3 separate regions of the Homo sapiens genome follow, and regions 2 and 3 are each reported to be linked to region 1. Evidence: microRNA targets listed by miRTarBase, many of them from high-throughput screens and not tested one by one. Region 1 holds a microRNA gene; each other region holds the end of a gene's coding sequence.

Region 1 (11,163 bases):
TAGTACACATATATAATATGTATATAGCACCTGTGCACTAATGCATCACACGCAGACACACACTATATTGTAGAAATAACAACAAAATCTTGGAGTGGGGGGAAGTAGCTTACTATAGCTCTTCCTAGAATCCATCTTAGAGCTTATTTAAAAGAAACAATTCCGGAGCCTGCAGTAAGCCGAGATCGCGCCACTGCACTCCAGCCTGGGCGACAGCGAGACTCCGTCTAAAAAAAAAAAAAAGAAAAAGAAAAAAAGAAACAATTCATTCTTTTCCAGGCCTCAGCACAGATTTCTGCTAACTTGAGCTCCTGGGCTGCTAACACATCAGAGAGAAAGGAAGGTGTCATTTAGTAATGTGGCTGCTACTGATGACACAATCATCTTTCATGAAAAAAGTTAGCTCCAGGGGAGGGCTGCCTATTATAGCAAAAAGATGGGAAGTTAAGAGAATTGGTTGCTAGGTTTTCTTTGTGGGGAAGCAAGCTAAATTTTTTTGCTGAGTATGACAAAAATGCAAGCTATTTATTCTGATTGAGATAATATTAGAAAAGAAGAGGTTGAAAACCAGAAATACAAATCTTGAGAGGTACAAGGACTGTAAAGTCACAAGGGAAAGGCACCTGATTGTTTTGCTGACCCTTTATATACTGGGGACCTAACACAACGCCTGGTACTGGTAGATGCTTGTTATATTTGTTGGATGACTACATAAACAAATATCTCCTGTATTCTACTAGTATCCCCTTAGCTTTCTTCAACAATTCTGTAATTATTATAAAAATACAATATTATTTTCAATTTATTATTTTCAAATTATTTCAATAGTATTTTCAAAATTGCAAAAAAGAGAATAAATGAAAAGCCATCCATAATTCATTCATTAAGATAAAATTAGGTTTTAAGTATTTTCCTCTAGTTATTTTTCTGTATACACATGCATTGGTATTTGTAGGTGTGTGTGCATAGATACACAGAAATATGATTATGTAACATAAATAATTTTTCATTTACATTTTGAATATTTTTGAGGTTATTAAATAATTTATTTGAGAATATGATTTATAATTGTGGTAAAAATACAATATTATTTATCTGCATTTAATCTATCAACATTTAACTTTATTATTATTAATCTATCAACATTTAACTATTCTTCCCTATTGTTAGACAATGAAACTTTTCAAATAGCTGCTATTTTATTTGATTTTTTAATTCTAGAGACAAAGTCTTGCTCTGTCGCCCAGGCTGGAGTGCAGTGGCACGTCTGTAGCTCACTGCAGACTTGAATGCCTGGCATCAAGTGATCCTCCTGCCTCAGCCTCCTGAGTAGCTGGGACTACAGGCGCAAGCCACAATAGCTGCTATTTTAAGAACATAAGAATTATTTAAGTCAAAGGATATTAATATATAACTACTTCCTTTGGCATATATTTCCAAAATTATTTTCCAGACAAGATTGTATCTAGTACTAGTATAATCCTCACTGAGTATTATAGCTTTTCTTTTTTTTATATTTAAATTCAGGAAACATTTTAATTGTTATTCTAACCCACATGTTTCATGACTAAAAAGGTCAAACTTTTTTTTCTGTATTTTTTGGAAAAGCTTCTTATGCTTCCTCTTTGGTGAATTATCCATCCATGTCCTTTATTCACTATTTTCTACTGAGATAGTACTGTGTCTCTTTATAATTTGAAAGCAATTTTTAAAAATATTTAAAGAAGATTAGCCCTTTGTCTACAAATAATTCCCCAGTTTGTCAAATATTTAGAATTTATTTTCATAATAACTCTTGAGAAACAGGTTTTAGATTTTTAAGAAGTTAAAGCTACTGGTTTTGTTTTGTTTATTATTTTTGCTTTGTGATTTCTTCCATATATTCATCCTTAGAAACAATTTCTCCTTCCTGGAGCCTAAAAAATGCCCATTTATAGTTTATTCTAGTTTCATTACTAGAATAGTGTACTTTGATTTAGTTTGATTTTGTCTTAATTTTAAGCATAGCACTGAGTCATTTTGATTTCTCTTTGTTTTTCCCCAAGTACATAATCAATTGTTCCAGCATTATTTATTGAATACTCTTCTTTTTACATACTGATTTATGATGGAAATTTAACTGTATATTAAATTCTTGCATGTATGAAAGTCAGTTTCTAAATGTTTATATTGATCAATTCTTGCCCAAGATACATACCATCTTGATAGCTGAAAGTTTATTGTATGTTTTGCTATCTTGTAAGACAAATCTCTCTTTACTGCCCTTTCCAACTTACTTTATATTATCTTTTTGAAACTTTTTCACTATTCAAAACTATATATTTTTTAAAATGAGCTATGTTTTCACTTTGTCAAGTAAGAATAATCTTAATAAAATCTTTGAGTCACATTAAACCTTTAAATTATTTCAGAGGAATTAAATAATTTCTTTTATAATATTTAGCATTCCCATTCATAAACATGGTATATCTCTACATTTATGATGCTATTATATCTCCCCATATGTTTTCTAATTATTTTCATATAGATGACACACAGTTCTCTAAGTTGTTTTTCACAGAGTTATTTATAAATTTGCCTAATTATTTATGATGGCATTAATAAAATAATTTCACCATCATAATTTTGACTGAATTATTGATTTCACCAACAACTATTAATATTTTATATTTGTTCTTGCATCTGAACATTTTCCTATCTTCTTTTATTAGCTCTAATAATTTTTTAAAAAAATATCTTGGGACTTCTAGATCAGTAAATTAATGATTTGTAAAATATTTTTCTGCTTACTTTAATAGCTTTAGCTCTTTTATTGCATTGCACATTTACAAGGTAATGTTGAATAATGAAGACATTAAGGATAATTTTTTTGTCTCTGAATTTTAAGTGAAGTTTTTCTGATATTTCAATTTTCAGAATGTTGCCTCTACATTTTGATATTCATCCTAATGTTAAGGAAATTTCCTTTCTTGCTTATTTTTTCAGACTTTTCCCAGGAATGGATATTAAATTTTATGAGATGATTTTAGAGCATCTGCCGGATGATTATGTTGTTTTTTTCTTTGACCTATTACTGATGGACAATATTAATAAATGTGCTACTAATAAGTGAATATTATATTCCAAGAATAAAATCTGCACAATATAGTCTAAACATTATCTTGTAATATACTACTGTATGATTTTCATTGGTTTAGTAAAGACTTTTATATCTATCTCTAAAATGTCATTCTGGGAATTATAACTTGGACATCAAGTTCCTTACACTCTGGTTGCCCTTTATTGGTTATCCTTCTTTTTTCTTTTTAATGGGCCAATCAAGCACACTATGTAACTAAGATGAAAGCTCTTTAAGAGCACAGGTCTTTGTTTTATTTGCTGATTTATTTACTAAGATCCTAGAAGTATGCCTGATACATTATTCGTATTCAATAAATACTTTTTGATTGGTTAATGAATTCTCTCTTATATTGATATTTATGTTCTTTAATAATTTTATACTCTGAATTATATATTTTTTATTCTTTGTGTCTTTATCTGGTTAGCTGAAATAAGACATAGGAGTGCATATACAAAAATTTTCTTCCATCTGAATATGAGGGTGGTATACCGGCTGAACCATTGAATATCTGAGAATTTATTTCCGTTGCCATCAGGTGTGGAAAAACAGCTGAAGACAAAATTCTTCCCATAAGCTTTTCCCATCAAAACTGTGATATATTGTTCCATTATTTTCTAGTACTTGGCATTGCTGAAGAGTATTTTGAAGCTGGCCTTTGTTTCTTTGTTCATGATCTTTCTTTTTCTTTAATGCCAGGATGCTTTATTCTTAAATTTTGACGACAATGACAAAAAATAATACATTTTATTGTTTAAAATATACAGATATGTGTACTATATAAAGCAGAAATCTGTCTCACTACATAGTTCTTCTATGACCCCGCCTATAGGGCTTCTTCTAAATAAACTCACTTCTCAGATGGAATTACTCTAACAGTTGGTTGTGTCTCGCTTCTAAGTTTGTTTCCTTATATTTCTATAAATAGTGGAGTTTCTTCTTTCTAAATAAGATCATACTCTTATAACTGAGTGCCTGAAAAAAGAGAGCCTTAAAAATGTTTAGAAAGAGAAGCTTCCAAATGTGCCTTTGTCTAGATGGACAAAGAAATTCACATTGAAGCACATTCTCTTAACCAACACTTGAATGGTCCTACTTGATTATGTAAATATTAGGTGAGTAGGCACCCATCACTCTGAAGAAAAGGCATGGCAGGGACTGTGTGTCTTTGCCAAGGTTGCCTTTTCTCATTGTCCCTAAGTATGTAGGCATATCTGGTCTTTGAGTAGAAAGTGGAAAAGGTTTACACTGAAGCCATGCTCAGAAAACAGACGGATGGTCCCAGGCAGTGAGAAATTTCTAATTGTGGGGAAGGACAAGTACATTTCAAGGAATAGTGATATCTTCTATTAAATTTGAGGGTGTTTCCTTTATTGACTATAATTACTTCCTATCATCTCCAAGCCTTCGGGGGAAATCTGTTAACTAAAATGACCTAGTGTTATTTGTGAAAGTCCCACAAAGGAAGAGGAAAAGAGTCCACAGCAAGAGGTAACATAGAACCAGAAGCAAAGAAAACCTATCAGGAGCAGGTTACAGGGGTGAAGCAGGATTCAGGAGAAACTCATAGGAACGTAAGCCCTCCCTGGAAATCTAAAGTACTACACCAGTGGTAGAGGTAGGTGTGCTCCACACAGTGTGCGGTGTGGCTGCTTGAACCATCTTATTTGCATATTATGCAAAGGATAAGACTTGAAAGAGGGGGAGTTTGGGGAGTACTAGATTATAAATGCTTGAATATCAATAATCCCCACAGTTGGGATGACTGTTCTAACTGGATGTGGTGGGCAGCCTCTAAGATGGCACCCAAAGAGCCCCACTTCCAGATATCCATGCCTTCGTGTAAACACTTCCCCTTGGTTATGGGCTAGATTTAATGATTCAATTTTAGCAAATAGAATACAGCAGAGGTGATGGGATGTCACTTCCAAGATTAGATTACAAAAATACTATGGATGCCATCTCTCTTGACATCTGGGGCATTCTCTTACTTGCTCGGACATAGGAAAGCCAGGTGCCATGTTGCGAGCTTCCCAGTGTAGAGGCCCACTTGACTTGGAACTGGAAAAGGTCTCCAATGGCCTGCTAGAGAAGGTCTCCATCCAATAGCCTGCTAGAGAAGCTCTCCAGCCAATGGCCCAATTCAACAGCCTGTGAGGAATGGAAACATCCAAGCAATCACATAAATGAGCTTGGAAGGGAAATTCTCCCCTAGACAAGCCTTCAGATGAGACCACAGCCCTGGCTTATAGCTCATCTACAACTTCCTAAGAAACTTTGAACCAAAAGTACCCAGCTAAGCCACACTTGGATTCCTGATCTACAGACACTGTGAGAAAATAAATATTTGTTATTTTAAGTTGATAAGTTTTGGGATAATTTCTTATGCAACAGTAGATAATTGATTCAATGGGAAAAATAATCAAGTATATGTTGCAGATAATTGACAACTTTGGGCAAAGACTATGTTTGGGATTCTAAATGGAATAAAACATTTAATAGAGTCAGAGTGTAAGAAATACAATGATATATGTTCAAGGATGCATCACAGTATAAAGCAACATGCCACAGGATACTATAGCAAAACATTCATTTTCATGATTTCACTTATTTCTTAAGGTACATATGCAATATGTCTTAGAAGAGACAACACAGAAGCTCAGCAGAGCCTCACTAGAAAACTCTGACTTGCCTTCCCTCACTTCCCAATGACCTAACATGAAAACGCAAAAAGTTACATAGGAATATTGGTTAAAAAGTCTGGTAGATTTCTTTTTTTTTTTTTTTTTTTTTTAACTCATTTTTATCAAAATTTGTGCAGTTGTAAAAATTTTTTTTTTTTTATTATACTCTAAGTTTTAGGGTACATGTGCACATTGTGCAGGTTAGTTACATATGTATACATGTGCCATGCTGGTGCGCTGCACCCACTAACGTGTCATCTAACATTAGGTATATCTCCCAATGCTATCCCTCCCCCGACCCCACCACAGTCCCCAGAGTGTGATATTCCCCTTCCTGTGTCCATGTGATCTCATTGTTCAATTCCCACCTATGCGTGAGAATATGCGGTGTTTGGTTTTTTGTTCTTGCGATAGTTTACTGAGAGTGATGGTTTCCAATTTCATCCATGTCCCTACAAAGGACATGAACTCATCATTTTTTATGGCTGCATAGTATTCCATGGTGTATATGTGCCACATTTTCTTAATCCAGTCTATCATTGTTGGACATTTGGGTTGGTTCCAAGTCTTTGCTATTGTGAATAGTGCCGCAATAAACATACGTGTGCATGTGTCTTTATAGCAGCATGATTTATAGTCCTTTGGGTATATACCCAGTAATGGGATGGCTGGGTCAAATGGTATTTCTAGTTCTAGATCCCTGAGGAATCGCCACACTGACTTCCACAATGGTTGAACTAGTTTACAGTCCCACCAACAGTGTAAAAGTGTTCCTATTTCTCCACATCCTCTCCAGCACCTGTTGTTTCCTGACTTTTTAATGATTGCCATTCTAACTGGTGTGAGATGATATCTCATAGTGGTTTTGATTTGCATTTCTCTGATGGCCAGTGATGATGAGCATTTCTTCATGTGTTTTTTGGCTGCATAAATGTCTTCTTTGTCACCACCAGGCCTGCCCTAAAAGAGCTCCTGAAGGTAGATTTCAAGTAAAATCACTAACAAAGGATGCTACGCGGTCCAGGGCTTTCACCTACCAGAGGATACAGAGGAGTCACTCTCCCCTCCAACCACACAAAACAGACTACAGAGGTCTTTTTATGTATGCTTTTAAGGAATTCCATTCCTGGGATTCAACATAGCTGAGGCATATATGGACAGATGGTGGAGCATTGTATCCAGAGATATCAAGATGAGAGGATAAAAGAAGAGAAATCGTTGAAGTTTCCTTGCTCTTATTAGTACATTTAAAAAAATCATAGTCCATGGGCTGTTACAACAAGTTCTCAATGTTTTCCATTTTTATATTTGCCTTGTTATAATCCTTAAAATTAATTAATCTTAAAATACATAATTGCCAAAGTTTTGTTCTATTTAAAACTGTGATTTTATTTAATATTGACATTACAAGTCCATTTCTGGAATCTGCCTGCCACAGAGGTTTGGTCCATCAGATAGTGTGGTTTCACAGTTAATAGAGTCTCTAGGCAGACTGCCTGGGTTTGAAACCTGGCTCTCCTAATTATTGGCTGTTTCACCTTGGGTAAGTGCTTCCATGCTTCAGTTTCCTTACTGGTAAGATGGATGTAGTAATAGCACCTACCTTATAGAATTATTTTGAGGAATCAATGAGTTATTATTTGTAAAGTGCTTAGAACAGCAACAGCTCCACAAATGGTCTCCTTCCCACTAATTCTGTAATAAAACAGCAAGTGCTGGGGGAAGGTGGGGGTGATGGGGGGCAAGAAAAGGAACCTGAAGCTTCTCCAGTGCATAGAAGTTTCTTTTGCCTCAGGAGTCATCCTGACCCAGAAACGGTGTTAGTGGTGTAACATTGGGCTACTTTGTGTTCGCTGGAAATCCCAGACTAATATTAATATTCATGGGATAGTCTCTGGAAGCCTAGACTTGGACCCACTTATACCTTAGTGCTTAAATTGTACAGACACTCAGACAGGTATGAATTAAACTTGGGTGGGGGGCAGCTTATTCGGCCATCAATTTTTATTTTATAGTTCTATGTGTGTGTGTGTTTTGAAAAACAAATGGTTCATTTTCTTGCTCCTGTGGGAGCAAAGCAAGTCATAAACTTAAAGCAAGTGTCTGCAAAAAACTTTCCAGGCACCAGTCTTTCTGACAGACAGAACATCATCTATTCAGTAGAAAAAGTCAAACTTGCTTGCTATCTTTTAATACTCAAAAACAAAAACAAAAACAAAACCCAACAACACTGAGACTGGTAGCTTTTCCATGGTTATCTCCATCTAAACCTTCATGAATAGATTCCTTCCTCCAGGAATAAGGAATGAAGACCTAGGACTGACAAGCAAGAAACATGAGCTCCATCCATGTTTGTTCTCTGGCGTAAACTCTGTAACTTGGAGGAAGGCTTTTGGTTTCTGAGGTTGGGCTGGGAATTCTGCAGGGCATAGACAACTTGCTCTCAATGGAGAAAACACACAAGCACACACTCAGAGAGACTCAGACAACTTGCATGCATACACACACAAAATTCTCACATGTAGACACACCTTCAAGATACACATTTACATTAATGTTCACAGGTCTAAGGTGTTAAGACTCAGGGAGGATCATGGAGGGGTGAGGGGCTTAGATCAGTTCAGAAGAGGAAACTTTTCAGATAGATTTCTGTCAAAGTAAAATTGAGGTGCAGAGCCCTCTTCGAGCCCTTCATCAAGATTCACAAAAATAAGGCATTAGGCTAGAAATAGCTCTCTGCAGGCATTTATATATACCTTTAAACTCCATTGTTTGAAGCCTATCAATTTGGAGTGCTGAATTCTACTAGATTCTAAGATATTAGAGTAAGATAGAAAGATGAATTTTAGTCAACCAATCAATGTGCACTCAATGGATGCCTACTACAGTCACAGGCAGTGCCCTCTGGGCCCTGGGATAGAGAGATGATTGAGATATTATCCCTACCCGATGATAGTCTAGTAGGGAAGATGAGACTAATACATATGAAACCAGCTAATCTAACTTCAACGTTAGACTATTAGAGCCCAAAAAGTGTCCTGCCTTGTCAAACATGCTATTTTGCCATTGAAATACTGCTATCCAGACATAGTAAGTAAATTTCTTATGGCCACATGATCAAATAATAGACCAGTTCTTCTAGAGAGAATTACTCTCTCCATCCCTTTGCATTGTTTTATAATTTTATAAAAAACTTTTACATGGCTCTGTGCTTTAACTAGGCATCTGCCTGTCTGTCCTTCCTTCAGGGATGTGATGCCCCACAGGTAAGAACCTGACCTTATACATTTAAGGAGCGCACAGTGACTGATAAGGCCATATTTAGCCAGGAGGTGCTCAACTCATCAGCCTTAAGTGATCGGAAAGGATCAAAGACAACAGTCCAGGGAATTCCTCTTGGCCAAGGTCGCCATTCATTACACCAGATAGCACAGGTAGTAAAGACCTAAATCTTGGATACAAATTCGAGGTAAGATATTTTAAACTTGGCGTAAAATTATAGACCTGTTTCTAAGCCCTTCTGTCTTCTTCTCCATTTTAAACTCAGTTGCTTTATAATTTTACATAAAAGGGTAATGCATTTTCATTTCAGCCAGCAGGAAAAGGTTAGGCTCCTCAGGTGCTTTTGAATCTTCATGTTTGCAGACAAAATCATTGAAAGGTTTTGATATATTTCTCCTAAGGGTTTTTCTTGAAATTACACCAGGTCACTCAATCATCAGACAAGCATTTTTAAAAACAAAACAAAACAAAACTGCTCTTTGTCAAATACTGGGCAAGTTGTTGTCTACAAACTTGCTTGGCTGAATTACTGAGCAACTACTTTATGCCCAGAGAAAAGAAAAGAGCAGCATGGTTCTTACATGTTTGCTAAGCTCTTGACCCATGCTCTCATGAGTACCCTATCCCATCTGGATCTGAGTGTTGCCCTTCACTATCCACCTTCTTTCATTTAACAGTTATTCACTGGACACCTCCTATGTGTCAGGCACTGTCTTAGATGCTGGATTCTTGGTGATGAACATGGCAGACAAGGTCCCTAGCCTCAGGGAGTGAACATACTAGTTGTCAGAGGGAATGGGGGATGGGAGTAAGCAAAAACAAAAACAAAAACAAATAAACAAAAAAAACCAATAAGCAAACAGATACTCAGAACCCTGAACTGTTTCTGACATATAGCAGGTGTTCAATAAATATTTGTGATTTAATGGAATGAGCAAGATAGTTTCTGATAGTGATAAGGGATATGAAGGATATTGATGTGAAATAGAGCATTTAGACAGGGTCAACATGGAAGGCTCTGTGAAAAGGTGATGTATAGGCCAATATGCAAAGGAAAGGAAGGAGCCTGCAGAAAAGGTGTCCCTAAAGTTGAGGAAGAAGCAAGTGAAACATCAGGGAGTTAGTAACAAACTGATTGCATTTGAGGACAGAGAGAGAACAATGTGACTGAGACAAACTGAGCAAGAGGGAGAGTAGCACAAACTGATGTCAGAAAGGTAGAGGGAGCTCAGCTATGCTGGCACTATGGATCAAACAAAGGAGTTTGGGCTTAATTTCCAGTGTTATTGGAAGCATTTGGGGTTGAAGCAGTAAGTCAATGTGATTAAACTCATGAATTGAAAGATCGCCATGGCTGCTCTGAGGGGAAAGAATTGGTAGGAGGCAATATTGGAAGAAGGAAGTGCGTCAGTTAGGATGTTTTAGCACATCAACAGGTTATAGGTGTGAAAGATATTGTTCCCCTCTGCCCTTGGTGTAACCAGGAGAGAATGAGTTTGGCCAAAGCTGTGGGGCGGTTCTGGCCATAGGAGGATTCATCCTTTAACCAGAGAATGCTGAAAAATTAGCACCATCTTCCGTGTCTGTCACAATGTAAAAAATATTGGAAAGCCCTGCTTCAATACATATTTTTCATGCTTTCTGGCCATCGGGCTTCTTTAATACACTCTTTCTATGTTTGGAGAAATTTCCCACTTGAAAACCAGCCTCCAAGATAACTGCTAGTGATCCCCACGTCCTAGCATTTGCTCCCTTGAGTGGTTCCCTCCCACACAGCACCAGGGTTAGTGTGTGTAACCAATAGAACACAGCAGAAGTGATGGCATATCACTTCTAAGATTAGGTTATAAAAGACAGTGGCTTATGTCTTGAGCTTCCTCTCTTGCTTTTTTCTTTTTTTCTCTCTCTCATCACTCACTCTGGAATAGTCAGCTATTTCTTAAGAATACCCCAGTATCCTTGTGGAGAGGGCTGCATGATGAGAAACTGAGACTTCCAGCCAGTAGCCAAGCAGTAGGCATTATTGAAAGCAGCCCCAGTCAAGACTTCAGATGATGCAGCTCTGGCCAGCAAGTTGAC
Region 2 (7,000 bases), not on the chromosome of region 1:
CAAGGTTTGAATGCATACCAGTGTTTTTATTGTTTTGAGATTGCCAATTTTCCTGATTTCCTTAAGGTAGGAGAGAATTTAACGTGTACTTCATCGACACAACCCATCTACAAATGTGCCCAGATCTAACAAAGTAGGCTAAGACCTTCCACTTAAAAGCATGTTTAACTGGAAGTTGAGAGTCTGCTTTGTACCTCAAGAGTTACATGAGCATGTTGTGGATAAATGTAAATTATAGTCAAAGTAAGATACTCTGCCAAGTTTCCTCTGTAGAGAATTCACTTTTCTCAAATTTTAAAATTTCGACTTCAGCCTTTGCACTCAGGAGGTTCTGCTCCAGCATGAGCTCTTGTACTTACATAGATCTAATTTATACAGTGAGTCAAGACGTAGAATAAATGCTCCCACATAGCCTTTCTTTTGCTTTTGCTTCTCTCCTCTGAAGTGTGAGTTGAGTTCTCATTTAGGTTTGTAACATGGCTATTTCCTAGTTGTAAAGTTCTGCATTTATAAGTGCCATTGTTGTAAGGTGGTGTTTCCTAGACCTTCCCTGATGCGATTTTACCTTTGTTGAATTTGTATAAACAATTGTACAAAAAAAACCACTCTTGAACTTTGAGGGTTTCTGTTCTAGGAGTGGACTAGAAGTTTAAGCCCAGAGTCAGTAAACACTGTTTTGAAGTCCAAACAATGTAATTTCTGATTCATCTGATGTACCCTGTGGTGCGTCATTTCTCTTTCTTCAGAAAGCAAGCAAGCTGTTTCTGGCTAGTAAAGGTAACGGGAAAGAGCTATACTCTGACAACGGCCACGCGTAGGAATTAGACACAGACTTCTTTAAGGAGAAGAGCTGCTCATCATCTGTCTGTGTGCCTCTTACCACACAGAATTAATTCCATGGCTACTTGCCATTACCATTGCCTAAAAGTTCGCCAGATTTGGGAGACAGTGGGAGCAACTGCAGGAGGCTGCATCCTGTACAGGTAGCCTTGGGCCATGGTGGCTGTAGGAAACACTTGGTCATGAGGTGGCTTCCCCAAGTGGCAGATGCAGAAACCAGTGAGAAGTAATTTTAGATTACGGAATTTTTTTTAAAGACAGGACCCTGCTGGCGATGTCATATTCACATACAGAAACAACTGCTCTAGTGAATCTGAAGATGGAGAAAGTAACCAACCTCCTTCCTCAGTGATTGATAAGAGCAATGTACGATGTTGCCCCTGTGGAAGAAGCCTTTTCTTGCTGATGGCTGAGTTTTCTATTTGTCCCTTTTATTTTTACTATGGCAAAACAGTTTTAATTAAAATGAGACAAGGCCACGTGGAGTGGATCCAGCACTTTGGGAGGGATCACCTGAGGTCAGGAGTTCAAGACCAGCCTGACCACAATATGGTGAAACCCCATCTCTACTAAAAATACAAAAATTAGCCAGGAGTGGTGGTGCATGCCTGTAGTCCCAGCTACTCAGGAGGCTGAGACAGGAGAATCGCTTGAACCCAGGACACGGAGGTTGCAGTGAGCTGAGATTGCGCCATTATACTCCAGCCTGGCGACCGCGAGACCGCATTTCAAAAAAAAAAGAGAAAGATCTCATCTAGATACATGTCTCCTGTTAATTTAAATCCACAGACCCTTGTTGACTCAATCTAAAGACACTTGAAGCCACTGTACCCCAGAATTTAACTCAGGAATCCACTTCACTCCATGGTTTATAAAAATGTGACTTTCTTTTGTAAGCCTGATTGATTGTTTAAAATGCAGTGTCCTCATGAATGGTAATATTTGTTTTCTTGACAGCCTGAGTTCTCCAAACCTCCAAACATTAATAATATAGCTACCCTGATATCCAGTAAAGTCATCCTCTTCCTTAAGAATTGCTTTAAGGTTAATCATTGTTCTCTGGTGAACGGATCCCGTAGTCACTCATTAGTAGCCAAGACAGATTTGTGGCTGCAACTGGGACTAGTTAAGGGAAGTAGGGCTCAGGGTTAGAAGGCAGTGTTTCTCCTCTAAGGGTTCCTGGAGCACACAGGTCTGCTAGGGAGGGGCTGCCAGGGCTGGGGATCCAAGCCACCACATGGATGTGCAATACAGCAGAGACACAGCAGATCTGTAGTTTCAGGACAGGCCATTGTATAACACAGTGGCCATAAACTCTCCCAAGAGTACTGAACAATCCAGTAAGATTGTACTTCAGTACAAATCCATGGTCTCTGTACAGACCTATTTTATTTTATTTATTTTGAGACAGAGTCTCGCTCTTGTCCAGGCTGGAGTGCAGTGGTATGATCTCAGCTCACTGCAACCTCTGCCTCCCAGGTTCAAGCAATTCTCCTGCCTCAGCCTCCCCAGTAGTTGGGACTACAGGTGCCTGCCACCATGCCCAGTTAACTTTTGTATTTTTAGTAGAGATAGGGTTTCACCCACCATGTTGGCCAGGCTGGTCTCGAACTCCTGACCTCAGGTGATCTGCTGGTCTCAGCCTCCTAAAGTGCTGGGATTACAGGGATGAGCCACCGTCCCCAGCCTCTTTTATTTTTAAAATGAGCCAAAGATGAGGCCAGCCGAGGCTAAATGCTACAAGCAACTACTCTGAGCCTACACGCCATGTCTGATGAAGTAATGAAAGGACCATAAACCCAAGGGAATGTTTGCTGTGTCAAATCACAGCTTAGTAACCTAGAAAAGAGGCTCTGTCCCTTCCTCTAGGGAATCTGATGTTTACAAAGGAAGACACCATGGCACCTCAAATGACATCCTTTCATATTGTGAAGATGGGATAAAGAGACTTCACTGTATTCCACTGCAGACTTATCCATATGACATGACCTATTTAAAAAATTTACTTAAAGCAGCATGGGGCTGGGTGCAGTGGCTCATACCTGTAACCCCAGCACTTTGAGAGGCCGAGGCGGGCGAATCACCCGAGGTCAGGAGTTTGAGACCAGCCTGGCCAACATGGTAAAACCCTGTCTCTATTAAAAATACAAAATTAGCTGGGAGTGTAGTATGCACCTGTGATCCCAGCTACTCAGGAGGAAAAGGCAGAAGAATCACTTGAACCTGGGAAGCGGAGGTTGCGATAAGCCAAGATTGCACCATTGAACTTCAGCCTGGGCAACAGAGCAAGACTCTGTCTAAAAAAAAAAAAAAAAAAAAAAAATTGTTTAAAATTATCCAGGCATGGTGGTATGCATTATATGCCAGCTCCTGGGGAGGCTGAGGCGGGAGGGCTGCTTGAGCCCAGAAGTTAAGACTGTAGTGAGCTATGATCATGCCACTGTACTCTGCCTGGGTGGGCAACAGCAAGACTCTGTCTTTAAAAAAAAAAGGGGGGGGAGGGGGTAGAAAGGCATGCCAGTTTAAAAATTCAAATTCCAGGGGGAAATGCTTGCCCTCTGCCAAACAAGCCAATTTCCAAGTATCAAGCCTGTTACACTAAACATTTCTGTTGTCTGACATTTCTATTATCTGGCTAATAAACCAGGGTTACTTCAAACTACTATCTAAAAAATCCACCAAGCATTTTGTACTCTTTCTATAAAGAAGCCACTAAAACTTAATACACAAATCTAAGAGTAAACATTAAACTGCTTTAAACTAAGACTGTATAAATCTGAATTTTTGAATTTAAGTTTAGACAAAACCAGCACCTACTGCTTAGCTTCTATGGCCTGGATTTAAAGACTTGCCACCACCAAGTTACCAATTTGGAGGAAATGTTAAGATTTCCAGAGTCTCATCAAAAGATTACTTTGGGAGGAAGAGGCGGGTGGATCATGAGGTCAGGAGATTGAGACTATCCTGGCTAACACAGTGAAACCCCGTCTCTACTAAATATACAGAAAAATTAGCCGGGCGTGGTGGCGGGTGCCTGTAGTCCCAGCTACTTGGGAGGCTGAGGCAGGAGAATGGCATGAACCCAGGAGGTGGAATTTGCAGTGAGCTGAGATCACGCCACTGCACTCCGGCCTGGGCAACAGAGCGAGACTCTGTCTCAAAAAAAAAAAAAAAGTTTAGACAAAAAGCACAAGTGCCCACAAAACTCTGGCAACTTATGCTGCTTCTAAAGGGAAACCATGACCTGCTCAAGCCAGTTACTACCAATTGTGGTTGCAGACAAACAAGTGGGAGGCCTTGATTTACATGCTTTGATCTTCAAAAGCAGAAAATTTTTTTCTTTACTATTAGCCACACAAACTTTCTGCCCAAAGCACAGGGGCATCTGCCTCCTGGTGTTCACAGGTATTTTCAGCTCTGTTGATGGACTAATAAATTCTGAGCACCCAAGGCCATATGTGTTACTCACTGCACAGTCAGGAGATAACAGACTCTGAGAAGTGGCCACTCCCAGCTGCACTGAAATGACAGTTGGTCTCAACTCAACCATCCTGAGTCAAGTCAAGTTGGACCTAAAAGAGATTTCACAACATTTTTGCATAATAGCTCAAGTTCCTCTTTTTTTTTTTTTTTTTTTGAGACGGAGTTTCGCTCGTCGCCCAGCCTGGAGTGCAATGGCACGATCTTGGCTCACTGCAACCTCCGCCTTCCAGTTTCAGGCGATTCTCCTGCCTCAGCCTCCTGAGTAGTTGGGATTACAGGGACCCGCCACCATGCCCAGCTAATTTTCGTATTTTTAGTTGAGACAGTTTCACCATGTTGACCAGGCTGGTCTCGAACTCTTGACCTCATGATCCACCCGCCTCAGCCTCCCAAAGTGCTAGGATTACAGGCATGAGCCACCACACCTGGCCCAAGTTTCTCATTTCTTATGTGGTACTGGAAGGGTTAAGAGCAACTCTGGCATCAGAGCTAGGTTCAAATTCTGCATAGCCACTTTTTAACCATGAGGTTTTAGACAAGTCTAACTTCTCAGAGGTTAGAGAAGCAAAGCAATGTTTATTTCAGAAAGTTGCTTTGAGGACTGCAGAGGCAACTACAGCACCTAGCGCAATACCTGGACACAAGAAACAGCACATCAGCAGTTAACCTTACTGATAAGCAAGCAGGAAATGTAAGCACTGTTGCTCATGTGGCATTGTTTTTTTCTTTTTTTTCTTTTTTTTTTTTTTTGAGACAAGGTCTGGCTCTGTTACCCAAGTTGGATTTCAGTGGTGTGATCTTGGCTCACTGTAACCTCCACACCCAAGGCTCAAGCCATCCTCCTACCTCAGCCTCCTGAGTAGCTGGGACTACCACGCCTGGCTAATTTTTTCCAAAGACAGGGTTTCGCCATGTTGTCCAAGCTAGTCTTGAACTTGTGAGCTCAAGCATTCCTCCAGCCTCAACCTCACAAGGTCCTAGGATTACAGGCGTGAGCCACCGCACCCGGCCCCCATGTGACATCTTTGAAGGTGCTCCCACCATCTCTTCTGAAGAGGGGTGCTAGGCCAGGTCACTTGATTTAGGAACTGACCAAGACAATGTAAACAAAAGCTTTTAAAACTAATTTTATTCCTAAAGTTAAAATCAGCTAGCGGGTAGCACTGAAAATACACCTTCACTATACAAAACAATGTAAACTGATTACACATTAATAAGGAATTTAGCACACACACTTCTAATAAAAGAAGCTAGATGCAGCCCTTGCTATAAAAAGCTATACCTGAACAAAAATGGACATGTGGAGTCTAAGGCCCTGGCAGTCGACTAGAGAATGTCAGTTGTTCCCAATTATGTTTAAATGCAGAAACAGCAACAATGTGGAAACTTACATTCATCAAATGTTAGCATTTAAAATATACATGACTAATAAAGTGAACATTCAGAGGAGCCACTGCTCAGCATGTTCCATGTCGGCCACTTGTGGACACTGATCTCATCCAAAGAGGACAGAAGTTTCAAACATCTGAGCAGTTTAAGTTAAAAATAGGATGAAGGGGAAATAAGAGAACAGGATAAGTGTCCTCCCAAGACAGCAGTGGCTGATGCCCACATGGCGCAAACAGGCTGACTTCAATGAGTGTTCACGGGATGTGTGATAAAGCCCAGCTGAGCCCGGGAAGCTCACGTGTCCACAGGCAGACAGGCTCACGGCATGGACCAATGTTTCCACAACTCAGGATGGATCTTTCTGTCCCCACTTAGTAGTCAAAATAATGTTTTAAAATAGCTTCAGCCTTTGAACATAACTTTCCAGTCCCTTCTGTGCATTGAAATGTTGGGGGTCAAGTTTGGGGGTGACTGTCCTGGTGAGGGGAGCCTGTTTCAGGACTTGAACACGTGCACGGCTCGCACCACATACTGCCGGCAGATGGGACACTCACTCATGCGCTTGCCGCACTTGGTGCAGGTAACCATGTGCCCACACTCCAGTAGGACACAGTCGATGACGGCATCCATGCAGATGCGACACAGGCTGTCGTCTTCCTCATCCTGCAGCTGCAGCCGCTCGCCATCTGAAAGGCAACAGAGAGCTAAGGCCTCGGCTTCAGGCATGGCCAGTCAGCCAGCCACCCTCCCAGTCCGAAGCTGAGCAGCCACCTGCTGAATGACCCCTGCAGGCCCAATGCCACCCCAGTGTTGTACAAGAAATAATCCCAACTTCTCTGCACTTTGGTTCTCTCCACTAGAAATGGCAATGATAAAAGCTATACCTCAGGGTTTTGTAAAGAATAAAATGCTTGACGTACCCAACAAATGTTAGCTATGTATTTCTATTTTATATCTTTGTCTAATTCAAGACATCTGTGATAGGGATATATTACTTCTGTAACTAGAAAAAGAAACCCTCAGCTGGTCTTCTGTAGATGGGCTTTGGAGTCAGGATGCTATTGGAATTTAACTCAGTTGCCCCAGCTTTGTAGCCCTGGGAACACCACAGTCTCTGGAGCCTCATCTCAGTAGGAAAAGGAGCCTTAGTTCCCCCTTAGGAAAGTTAGGAATAATTGTGCATCCTTCCCTCCCTAGCCTTAGAATCATCTCAAGCCATCTGTGTTCCTGGCCCTGCTGAAGTCTAACTTGAAAGAGATGGGCCGTCCTGGCTCTTGGCCCACCTTTA
Region 3 (11,163 bases), not on the chromosome of region 1:
TGCATTCCCAATGGCCTCGATGAGCGGCGTGCCACCTGGCCCTCGAGGGAACATAGTTCTCTGCTGGGTCTTCTGGCTTCCTGTGATATATGTATCCACTCCAGGAGGCTACCCTGAGACTTGTAATCCTTTTCTCCTGGATCTGCCAGGTCAATTCGGGTATTTCAGTGGTTCTCAGTTCAGGCTATCCCTTTCTCCAGGCTTTTTTTATGAGCCATTGTTGCAGCAAGTCTGCAACACCCCCTGGAGTGTTAAACCCCTTAAGCATTTTATGGATTCTGAATTAATTATTTAGAACTAATTGGTGAGATTGGCCCTAGACTTTAAACTCCATGAAGACAGGCACTCTGTGTGTCTTGTTCATGGTTGTGGCCCAACACACAGAACAGGCATTACCATGAGGAGGGGGCTTATAAACATTTATTGAATGAATTATTTTTTATTAGGTTAAAAGGAAAGTCCTCCAACTGAGGTATAATTCCCAGCAGAAATTCTGAGATGCTAGAAGCCGTATGTCCTAAGCTGAGGTAGTTTAATGCCAAAGAAAGCCTCTTTGGATTTCTACGAAGTGTAGTGTAAGCCAAAATTGACACCAGGAGGAAGGTTTGTGGGGAAAAAATAGGGGGGTGAGCATGGTGTATCATATCAGAATTCTCTTCTACATATGTATATCACACCTGCCTCAAAGCAGGGAGTTAGGAAGTGATGAAGCTGTAACACAAATCTTATCATTTATAGACCAATAATAAAAGCCAATGTTTATTGACCATCTATAGCCAAGTGCCATATTAAATTTTTGTATGCATGATCTTATTTAACCCACAAGAATATGCCCATTATTACAGCTCTTTCTATATACAAGATAACAAAGACTTAGAGAAGTGATTAAATGCCAGGGTTTCCCTCTGTGAATTGGAGAGCCAGGGTCAAACCCATATCTGACTCCTAAAGTGCAGTCCCAAACTCGGAAGATCACTGTCTCAGTTTAGGTTCCCCCTAAAGCAAGACAGGAGACAGAAATTGAGTGCCGGTGCATTAGTTGGAGGTGATCTTACTAAAGCAGGTGAGGGAAGGAGAAATTGAGACAGGGTAGAAAGGAGAGCCAACAAAGGGTGCATAATTGAGTGGATTGTGGAAACCAGCTCATTCTTGCTGTGGACCCTCTGAGAGACTCTGAAGAGCACACCTCAGCAGTTCCTCTGAAAGGCAAGGAAGCAGCTAAGTATTTGCCCATTCAGTCTATTCCCTCATGGGTTGGGAGCACTATAGCCTACTCCTAGTGCAGCGCCATCACACTCCCATGACCAGGAAACACCCTTGGGCAGAGACCAGGAAGAACTTAGATTCTAGTGAGGCTGGCACATTCGCACCTGTCAACACACAGTTGAAAGGTGTCGTTAGAGAAACACCATCCACTGGTGGAGAACTGTCTGCAGATGACCAGGAGTAAGCCCAGGGCAGTGGTTCTCAACCAAGAGTGATTTTGTTTCCAGGGGACGTTTGGTAATGCCAATGTATTTTTGATTAGGCTGCTATTAGCATCTGACATTTGATAATGTCAAGGTATTTTGAGGGGCTGCTATTAGCATCTCGTTCGTAGAGGTCAAGGATGCTGCTAAACATCTTACAGTGCACAGGACAGTCCCTCACAACAAGGAGCTATCTGGTCCAAGATGTTAGTAGTGCCGACGTTAGAAACCCTGGCCTAGGGTTTACAGATGGAGCATTCACAGGACTTTTTCAGGGAATGTAGATGAGACCCAACAATGATATTTGTAGCAAATAGCTCATTCACAAATGATATTTCAGGCTAGAAGAATAATAGTAGCTGTTTCTTGTCTAACTCTGAATATAAATATAAAATATGCAATGATGCAGAGTAGGCCATTATTCTTCCTAAGTAAGATCCATTAGGGAAAAGAGTAAATGGTGATTTGTATGGTTTTGCTGTCTGGTTGTAACTGGAGTAGGACTTTTGAGTTCCAAAATGTAGATGCTGTGAAGTGACCTTGCGTGAGTCAGTGGAAGGTGATTCTGCTGGCACCCTGCGCATAGGTGAGAAAGAGATGAAGTGGAAAAAGGTCTCAGAGAGCTTTGACTTTAGTGAGTCATCAAAGCAGAAAATGTGGTGTGGTTGTATTTTCATGAGCTTTTCGAATTCTGAAAATGATCAATTTTTAAAATTTTGCTTTAGGAAATGGTTGGAAAGGAGCGCTTTTCAACAAAGCAAAATTTCCTTTTATTCTAAATAACAGCCTCTTAGCTTGAAAATAACCTCTTATTCCCCATTGATTTGGCCTTTTTGCTGATACTGCATACTGCTTTGAGGATGTTATTACCTGTGTGGTAACAGGGAAATCCAAACAAACGATGGTGGCAACGCTGCTGAGGTTGTGGCAGTAACCACTAGGATCTTTGTTTAAAACAAAATCATTGCTTGAGCTGTGTGATTATTATGTACAAAAGAGAGTCCAGATCTGAGCTGGACATATTCAGAAAACAAGAAGTTTATTCTTGTAAAAAGCACCTGAAAATAAATTTCATCATGGATTTTAAATGCTGGATCAAGGACTATGATGAAGATGTATAAAAGGGGTATTATATCCTCTGATGCCCTCAGTGGTAGAATTGTTTGGTTTTTTGGCTTTTATTTCCCATGATGCTTCATCTCTGCAGAGTTCAAACTTCTAATCCTTAAAACACCCTCCAAAGTGAATATGCATATGATAGTAGGTAGAATAGACCATTAATGCCCATTACAAATGTCCTCCATTGATAGCATGCTGGGCCACTGCTGGGTATGAGTGTTTCCCAGGCTCTGGCTCATTAGTTCCCATCTTTTTTTTTTTTTTTTTTTTTTTTGAGACAGAGTCTCACTCTGTTACCCAGGCTGGATTCTCCTGCCTCAGCCTCCTGAGTGGCTGGGATTACAGGTACGCACCACCACGCCTGGTTAATTTTTGTATTTTCACTAGAGACGAGGTTTCACCACGTTGGTGAGGCTGGTCTCAAACTCCTGACCTCAAGTGATCCACCCGCCTTGGCCTCCCAAAGTGCTGGGATTACAGGTGTGAGCCACCACACTGGGCTTTGCCCCAACCTTGATCACAAAAATAATAGTCATATGGAGACCAGGAAGGTAGAGAAAAAGAGAGTGCTAGGTAAATGGTGGAGATTGCAACTTAAGATAAGGTGGTTAGGGAAGGCCTTCCTGAGAAAATGACATTTGAACAAAAACCCACATGGGTGAGATTGAAAACCGTGGAATCACCTGGAGAAAATGCATGTTGAGCAAAGGAAATAGCATAAAGGCCTTGAGATGAAAGGCTGAATGCCTGAGGAATAGCAAGGAGGCCAGTATGGCTGGAGCAGAATGTGTAAGGTGGAAAGAAGTGGGAAATGAAGTCGGAGAGAAGGGGTAGAGGAGGAATGAATTGTGTAAGCCTTCTTAGCCCATCAGTAAAGACATTGGCTTTTACTCTAAGATGAGAACTTACTCAAGAGCTTTGAGCATGGGTGGCATGATCTGACTTAACATTTTTAGAGGATTACTCTACTGTAGCTGCAACATGGAGAATAAGCTAGGAGGGCAAAGATAGGAAACCGGAAGGTCAATTAGGATGCTCCTGCAATAAACCAGGAGAGAAATGATTGACTTGGACAAGGGTAGTAACCGTGAATGTGAGGAGAAGGTATCAGACTGATATATTTTGAAGGTCAAGCCAGCAGTACTTGCCGGCCAGTTGATTTGCTGATGGGCCAAAATTTTTGGCCTGAACAACAAGAATATGTATTTGCCATTTACTGAGGTAGAAAAGCCTAGGAGAGAAGCAGTTTGCAAATGGAGATCAGGGGTTTGTTTGGGGACATGTTACATTTGGTTTAGGGTATTTTAAAGACTCCTATTGGATATCCACATGGAGATTTTAATGGGCACTGGATATATGAATTTGGAGGTAAGGGATGATGTACAGGCTGCAGATATAACTATAAAAATCATCAGTTTACACATGGCATTTAAATTCCTGAGACTGCATTAAAGCAGCATGCATTTCTGGTTTTAGTGGGGACAATCTGAGCCATGAAATAGAGCTGTGTCTGTTGGTGTACGGCGAGATCTCCCTGTGAATCAAGCAGACCTCAGAAGCCCTGCTCCACCATCTGTGAAAACATTGCCAGTAACCCCTGGAGAAGTATCCAGAAGAACTGCTCATATTAAACGAACTAGGTGTGACCAAAACTGCATATATGGCTCCGGTGAATTTCCAAGGCATACAATACAAGATCAAAGAGGAAATAGTTCTGGAATTATGCAAGGGACCAAGAATTCATGAGTCAGGAGTGTGTTAAAAAAAGCATTGTAGGGATATAGAAAATCATCCAGAATGAGCGGTACAATTAAGAAGAGAGAGAAAATATGATCACAGGACCTCAACAGACCTTTGTTGATTTTCTCAGAAGATAGGAAAAAAGAAACTGAAGGAAAGCTGCCGCCAACTTTTCCCCCTCCATTGTGCCTAGATGGGGGGAGAAGGGGATGTAAACAGCAGGGCAGGGTTCAGGTAGGGTGACTAGCCCTCACTGGTTCCCAGGGACTGAGGGGTTTTCTGGGACACAGGACTTTCAGTGCTGAAATCAGGGCAGTCCTGAGCAAACCAAGATAGTTGGCCACCCTGGCTTCAGGCCAGAAGGAAGGCTTCCTGGAACTGAACAATTTGGCAGTGGAATAGAAAACAACTTATTTACTATTTAATTTGAGTCTGATAGATGAAATTAAAATCTGTAAGTGATGATTTCCCACCCTGAGTGCTCACATGCTTAACCCTTTAATTTCTGGAGGGATTTCAGAATCCCTCTTAGCAAGCAGTGATTTCTGATAGGACCATTCAATGTAGCCCCATGGTTTGGAGGGGAAATGTTAAGATCAAAAGGAGTGGATATGACACACAGAGGGATATCATAATAACTCAGGACAGGCTGCTGGGGTCTTTTGAGGCTAAAGGACCATCTCTGCAGACAGGCAGGGCCCAGTCTTGGAGGTCTCTATTAAGAACCTTATGGGCATGTTTTTTGTGGCCACATGGTGGGAAACTGAAGTGCCAGGGCCTCCCCCATTTACATGCTGCCATTGTGAGCAGTCTGTGCTCCTTAACATATGCTGATCCTGCTCTCTGCTGAGACCCTGTGTGAGCTCTTGTCTCTGCCTGGAATTTACTTTTGGTCCAACCAATGCACACACACACACACACACACACACACACACACACACACACACACTCCAGAGCTCAGCCGAGACATCATTTGCGGTGCTTTTCCTATGGTCACCTAAGCTCGCTCTTGAATTTTAGGAGCCCCCATCACGATGTGGTATCATTGCCTCTGCTGGTCTGTCTTCCCCCAATCAGTTAGGGCAGCAGTTAGGTTATATCTTGTAATATAACCTACTGCCAGGTACAGGGTAAATGTGTAATAATCATTTGAATGACAGGGAGGAAATCCTCCTCTTGTTAGGTATTCTTTGCTACATATATAATCACTTTTTCCCAACAACTGCTAGTTCCTGGGTGTGAGTCAAATCCACAACATATTATGTTAGATAGAGGATATTCTGTAACAGTGAGCAAGGAACTAAGAAAAAGATAGGTACTGAGCACAATTGCTGAATATGACAGGTTCTGGTCTGGTCTATCTTTTCTTTCTTTTTTTTTTTTTTTTTTTTTAGAGACAGAGTCTCTCTCTGTTGCCCAGGTTGGAGTGCAGTGGCACAATCATGGTTCACTACAGCCTTGAACTTCCGGGCTCAAATGATTCTCCCACCTTGGCCTCCCAAAGTACTGGGATCACAGGCATGTAGCACTGCACCCAGCTATCCTTTTTTTTTTCTTTTTTTTAAGCAATAATTTTAATTGTTCCTTCCCTTCACCTCCCAGTTTCTGTCCTTACACGCTCACATCCTCTAGAGCTTGGCTATAAAAGTTAACGAGGTAGCAGTTGCAAGCATTAGCAAGATGCTTTCGGCAGTTTGCCAAAAGCCAGGGAGCCCATCTTGAAAAGAACGTAGTCACCCCCTGCCGTCATGCCCTGACTGCCCAGCATTCTGCGTGAGTGGCAAAGCCCAACTCAGGAACACAAAGCAAAAGACAGCACAGCACACACATGAACTTTTGCCACTTTTGTATTTTATTGTGGAACTGAGTTTTTTTTTTTCCTTTACATCAAATATCCTCAATGGAAGAGGGGATATTGCACACAAATATCATAAAAGCACTACATATTACTTTCACTGGAAACTAATTTTCTACATTAGATATGACTGGATAGGATAGAAGTGATGCAGGATTATAAGACATAATACCATACACAGCTGCAGACTGACACAAACACCATTCAGAACAAGAGAGAGGAGTGTGAAGTGCTTCTCAGCTGGGCTCAAGACCACTTCTTTCCAGTGCTGGAAAGAGGGGCTGCATGCAGTGTAGGAAAAGCGTGTCTCTGAACTGCCACAGGGTGTTCTCGAAAGGGCAGCCCGGTCTTGATGCCACTTCTCCATGGCTCCTGTTTTGGGGAGCTCCAAACAAGTGCAGAGAAGCTGCCTATTTTTTCCCTTCCTTTTCAGTTTTTGATGCTGCCTTTAAAAATCAACTTCATGAAGTCACAGATTTTTTAACAGTAAATAGTTTTAATACCAGGTGAATAACCTAATTGCTTTCAAAGAAATGCTCATCCCTAGGCTGCTTTTGGTGTATTGTTCAGTTGGTTAAAAGATAAAAGCTTACAGTTCCTTTCAAATGGAAACAGGATCTTTTCTTCTAAATCTGAAGCACAAAAAAAAAAAGTTATTATCCTAACTCACAATATCATTACTGAGCAGGAACCTCCTGTGACAGGTGACTAAAGAGAGGCAAGAAAAGCAAATTCAGAATTGTAGAGCAGCTCCTAAGAGCTGAAATTTGGTAACAGAGGGAAAATGAAAGGTGGTAAGATTTCCATTAGCAAATGATTAAATCTTAATTAAATGAGTATTGGAAAGCTCCTAGACTGCATAAGCTATTGGAGACACTTAAAACATTCATATACACTGGGGAAACCATTCACTATGATATGTAACGTTAAGAAAAAAAATTTTTTTGAACTCCATGGAAAATGGTGTTTAAAGAGGGGAGGAGGGGAAGTTAGTCATTGTATCCAGTCCCACCACAAGACTGAGAAAGCATGCACAGGGCTCAGGGTTTTGAGAAAGGGGACAGAATTGGTTAAAATTGAAAATGGAGGATCATCGCTAACATTTAGTCTCTGTAGAATTTTGTTTAAGAATACTACCAAAAAGGTCATGATCATGAGTGCTATCTCGATAGAATCCCATCATTTAAACAGAGTGTAAATTCCTTCCACTCAAATATTCAATCTATACAATTGGATTAAGTAATCAGTATGAACAAAGCTCCTAGAAGTCTGTGTCGATCTTTAGCTCTCACCATGAATGTACATGGTACATTGTGATGGCTGTTACTAAACTAATCGTGTATTTATGGAACTAGCAAAATTAGGTTAGTCACACAGGCAGGAAAGGTGTCTGGAAGGACAGGAGCAACCTGTAATGCGAATATTGGTTTTCTTGGTATACTCAGGCTCTGTGGTCATATTGAGAACAACGGATGGAGAAAGGTACTGATAGATTTCATAGGAAAAAGAGCCAGCTGACTAGTGACAGTTTTTACATATTTTTCCCATTAAATCCCATAGCAAAAAAAAAAAAAAAAAAAAAGAGAGAGAGAGAGAGAAAGTGAGGAGGGTGGAGTGGTTATAACTGAAGACTGGCTATAATTCTCCTACAATGTTTATAGTTTTTAAAGCAAAATAATGTTCAGGTTAAATACATTTAATTGTGAAATTGGAAAATAACTTGCATCTTCTGTCAAAGAAAAATCAACCAGAGGTCTGGATTTGGCAAGAAGGCTAAAAATCTGGTTTTCTTCCCACGCATTATGTAGACCAATTCAACTTAAGAGCTAACCATTAAATAATTATCTTGAGTATCTTAGGTTGTGTTATAAAATAAATTTGAAGTAGATGAGTTTATACTCAATGAAATTCATTGGCGTCACAATGACTTTTCCATCATGTGTTAATTTCTTGTACCCTTAATATGTTATTTTCCAAGGACTTGAAAGAAATGGGGTAATAAATAAAAGCTGCATTTCTAGAGAAGCCTAACAAAAATAGAATATTAATTTTCTTTAAAAAATTAAACATTTGAAAAATGTAATTCACAGCATTAAGTAGACTGCATAGGTCCTCAGTGAAAGGACCCTGAAGAAGCATTTTTTTAAACCCTCATCATAGTTAGCAGTGCAAAACATAGACTTATCAGACAAAAATCAACTAAAATGTTAATTTTGAAATAAATAACTAACATAGAAAATAAAATGAGGTCATTGTTCTCTACTCCGTAGATCTTAGAGTCTGCAGGAAATGTAATGTGACAGAGCACAGCACAGTTGTCACGGAGAAGTTTGCCTCATCTGAACACTGGGTGCATTGATCTGCAACTTGAAACTTGATGTCAGTGTTAATCATGATCTGGCTTCCCAGGTTCACAGTTCAATGATGACAATGATGGAAATTTTCTCTAAACTCTACATGAACCGTAGGAGTTGAGAATTCATTTGTTTTCAATGTACTATTTCTTTTATTTTTTTTTTCCAGAAAAGAAAATCCCAAAGCAAATTTGTGCTAGGGTTCTTTGAACTTGGCTCTTTTACCTCATGGTTGAAGATCTTGAAAGAAGTATGTAGGATACCACTGGGTGATGTACTTGTCAAGGCCCTGAAAAGTAGCCTACCATGCCATTCTCCCCCACTCTCAAGTAGCACTTTTATGTTATGGGAATCAAGGGGTGGGAGGTATCATTATTCCTGGTAGTTATGGGTTTTTAATAAATATCATTACTGCAATATCAGACTTCAATCTTGCCAGAACTTCAAAAAACATTATTCAATTTTTGTCTTACGAAACACTTAAAAAAAAAGACTATCACTTGAGAATTTTCTTTGCAATTTCCTGTAAATGAAAACATTTGTTAAAAAGTTCATCTATGAAAAGTTCTCACATATCTTAAAAAAAAAATTCTTCTGTACACTTGTTCCCATAATTATGTTGAAATTAATGGAAAATTTAAAAAGCCAATGTAAGACAAAGGAAGGTAAATACTGTACACTTGCTGAGAACCTCTTCCACCATAAGATTCACTGTTTTCCCAGTTCTGATCATAGAAGCCATTTCAGTCTTGAACTTGCAGTAGTAAAGAAGCTGTGAAAGGCACAACTTGTTTGACTGAGAGGCCACAGGTGCACTGAAGTGGGATTCAACACGCATGACTCAGCATCAAACTGTTGGACCAATCAGATCAGCTTCTAGTACCCCCACACACGCTCACCCACGTGTTCCTTTAAGTATCTATAATCCTATATGGATGTTTTATAAACTTGCTGTCTCACATTAAAAAATAAGTGCATCAAGTATCTTTGTACATTCAAGTCACTTCCTAAGGCAAATTGTCTACCATATGTACTCCCAACTGCTTTGGTATTTGCTTCAGTTAATTGGGGTGGACTTGGGTGTTGCTGCATGCAGGTTAATCGACTCAGAGTGGACTAAGTGGGTGGACAAATGCTGGGAGCATGCCTTAGATCAATCTACTTGTGTGTTTAGAGTCTGAGAGTTCTGAATGGGGCCCAAACCACTTGCATGGCCAGTCTACACTCACTACATTATGTCAGTGTGCAGCCTTCAAACTGAAGGAGCTTAATTAAGATGTGAAAATATCACATGCCCTCATAACAAGTGTTGTTCTTTTTACTTTCTTCTAGCCAACTTGTTTTAGAAAATTAAGACTCTTTTTGATGACTCAGACTGACAAAAATGGAAAACTTTGCCTATGTAGACTAAAGAATGCCTACTGCCTGAGAAAATGCAGACCTAATTGTTGGTTTATTTTCTCCTCCTTACCCCACCCTGCTCTCTCTTTTTCTCTCTGGGTATCTCACCAGAACTCTCTGTCATTACATCTCCTTCTCTTGCATTCCTTTTCTTTCTCATTCTTTCTCTCTCTCTCTCCTGCGTTATCTTTGTGCTCTCACTCTCTCTCACTCTCTCCCGCGCTCTCTCTCTCTCTAAGACAAATGCCTCTACCTAGCAGAAGTCAGTTGGGTTGGCTAGTGCATGGTTTCCAAATGTTCAGCAGAGATGAACTGGGGTAGGTAATTTTGCAGGAATTTGAACCCTATTGTGGAAATACTGTTATTTCCCTTAGCAATCAGCAAAAACTGAGAAATTTAGTGACTTGCATCACCATGACACAGTATAGCATTTGGCAGGTAATTGTTCAGCGACTTAACTAGATGAATTGACTTTTTAGAAAAGGTGATTTCAAATTGAAGAATTTCTGGAAACAAAGTTCAGATCCTGTGGTGTGGCTGGCCTTGGTTTTTACAGTTCAATCTTGCATGCAGGGAAGGATTCATCTTGCATAACCACTGTGCTGCTGCTTGCTAAAACCATGATGTTGAGATCTTGCTGTTTCTCATGGGTCTCCTGGTACCATTCCCTCATCACTTCTGAGTCATGAGTTGGGATCAGTGTCACCTGCAGGGAGAGAAAAAAAAAATAGCTATTTAAGGGCAGAAACAGAAACCATATGAAAAAAATTGAATAGCAAGGTATTAGACCACTGGAAGAAGAAGGGAAATGAGAGAAAACTTTTCTATTTTCCTCAAGAAATGCAAAGGATTTTTCAATGTATATTTTCCAGGAACCAGAATAAAGCTGCAAAGAAAAGCTATTGTTTCTAAGGGAAACTGAAGGCTGGAACCAAAAAGCAATTAATCAGTTTCTCAGTTCTTTACTGTTAAGAGAAGTGCTTCCGTTAGGGTACAATTTTTTGTATTTCCTTTAACACAACTGGTAAGTTTTGCATAAAAGATATTGCATATTTAATCCAAGGATTTTATCGCGCACTTCAAAGCCCTCAAAAGCCCACTCATTGTGAGTAACTAACATTTTGTCCTGAGAACAAAGATCTGCACCTTTACTTTATGTGTGTGGTTGGGGATGGAGGTATGGGGTGGGTAAGTAATGTCCTGAATAGTATAAATTCCATCTAGC

Evidence for each region. The annotated mature microRNA hsa-miR-302e reads UAAGUGCUUCCAUGCUU and lies in region 1 at 7,347-7,363, shown strand. An mRNA with a match to its seed (bases 2 to 7 or 8) in the 3' UTR can be bound and repressed. Matches are read on the target gene's strand: a 7mer-m8 pairs with bases 2 to 8, a 7mer-A1 pairs with bases 2 to 7 and ends in A, and an 8mer does both.
Region 2: miRTarBase lists RNF34 as a target of hsa-miR-302e. The part of its 3' UTR that is shown has no 7-base or 8-base seed match.
Region 3: miRTarBase lists MAP1B as a target of hsa-miR-302e. Seed matches in the 3' UTR shown: 7mer-A1 at 9,507-9,513 and 7mer-m8 at 6,411-6,417.

Annotation. Positions count from the first base shown.
Region 1 is chr11:7,227,425-7,238,587 of GRCh38, forward strand. MIR302E (microRNA 302e) reads left to right here and starts at 7,342; the gene lies at 7,342-7,413.
Region 2 is chr12:121,422,784-121,429,783 of GRCh38, reverse strand. It overlaps RNF34 (ring finger protein 34), which reads right to left. Exons shown (of 6, transcript NM_025126.4): 6 at 5,436-6,398. The coding sequence ends at 6,208. It overlaps KDM2B (lysine demethylase 2B), which reads left to right. Exons shown (of 23, transcript NM_032590.5): 23 at 1-688. Among named protein-coding and RNA genes, the nearest start is that of MIR7107, 18 kb to the left of the region's middle. RefSeq lists an enhancer at 4,195-4,274.
Region 3 is chr5:72,204,565-72,215,727 of GRCh38, reverse strand. It overlaps MAP1B (microtubule associated protein 1B), which reads right to left. Exons shown (of 7, transcript NM_005909.5): 7 at 6,163-10,644. The coding sequence ends at 10,489. Among named protein-coding and RNA genes, the nearest start is that of MIR4803, 41 kb to the right of the region's middle.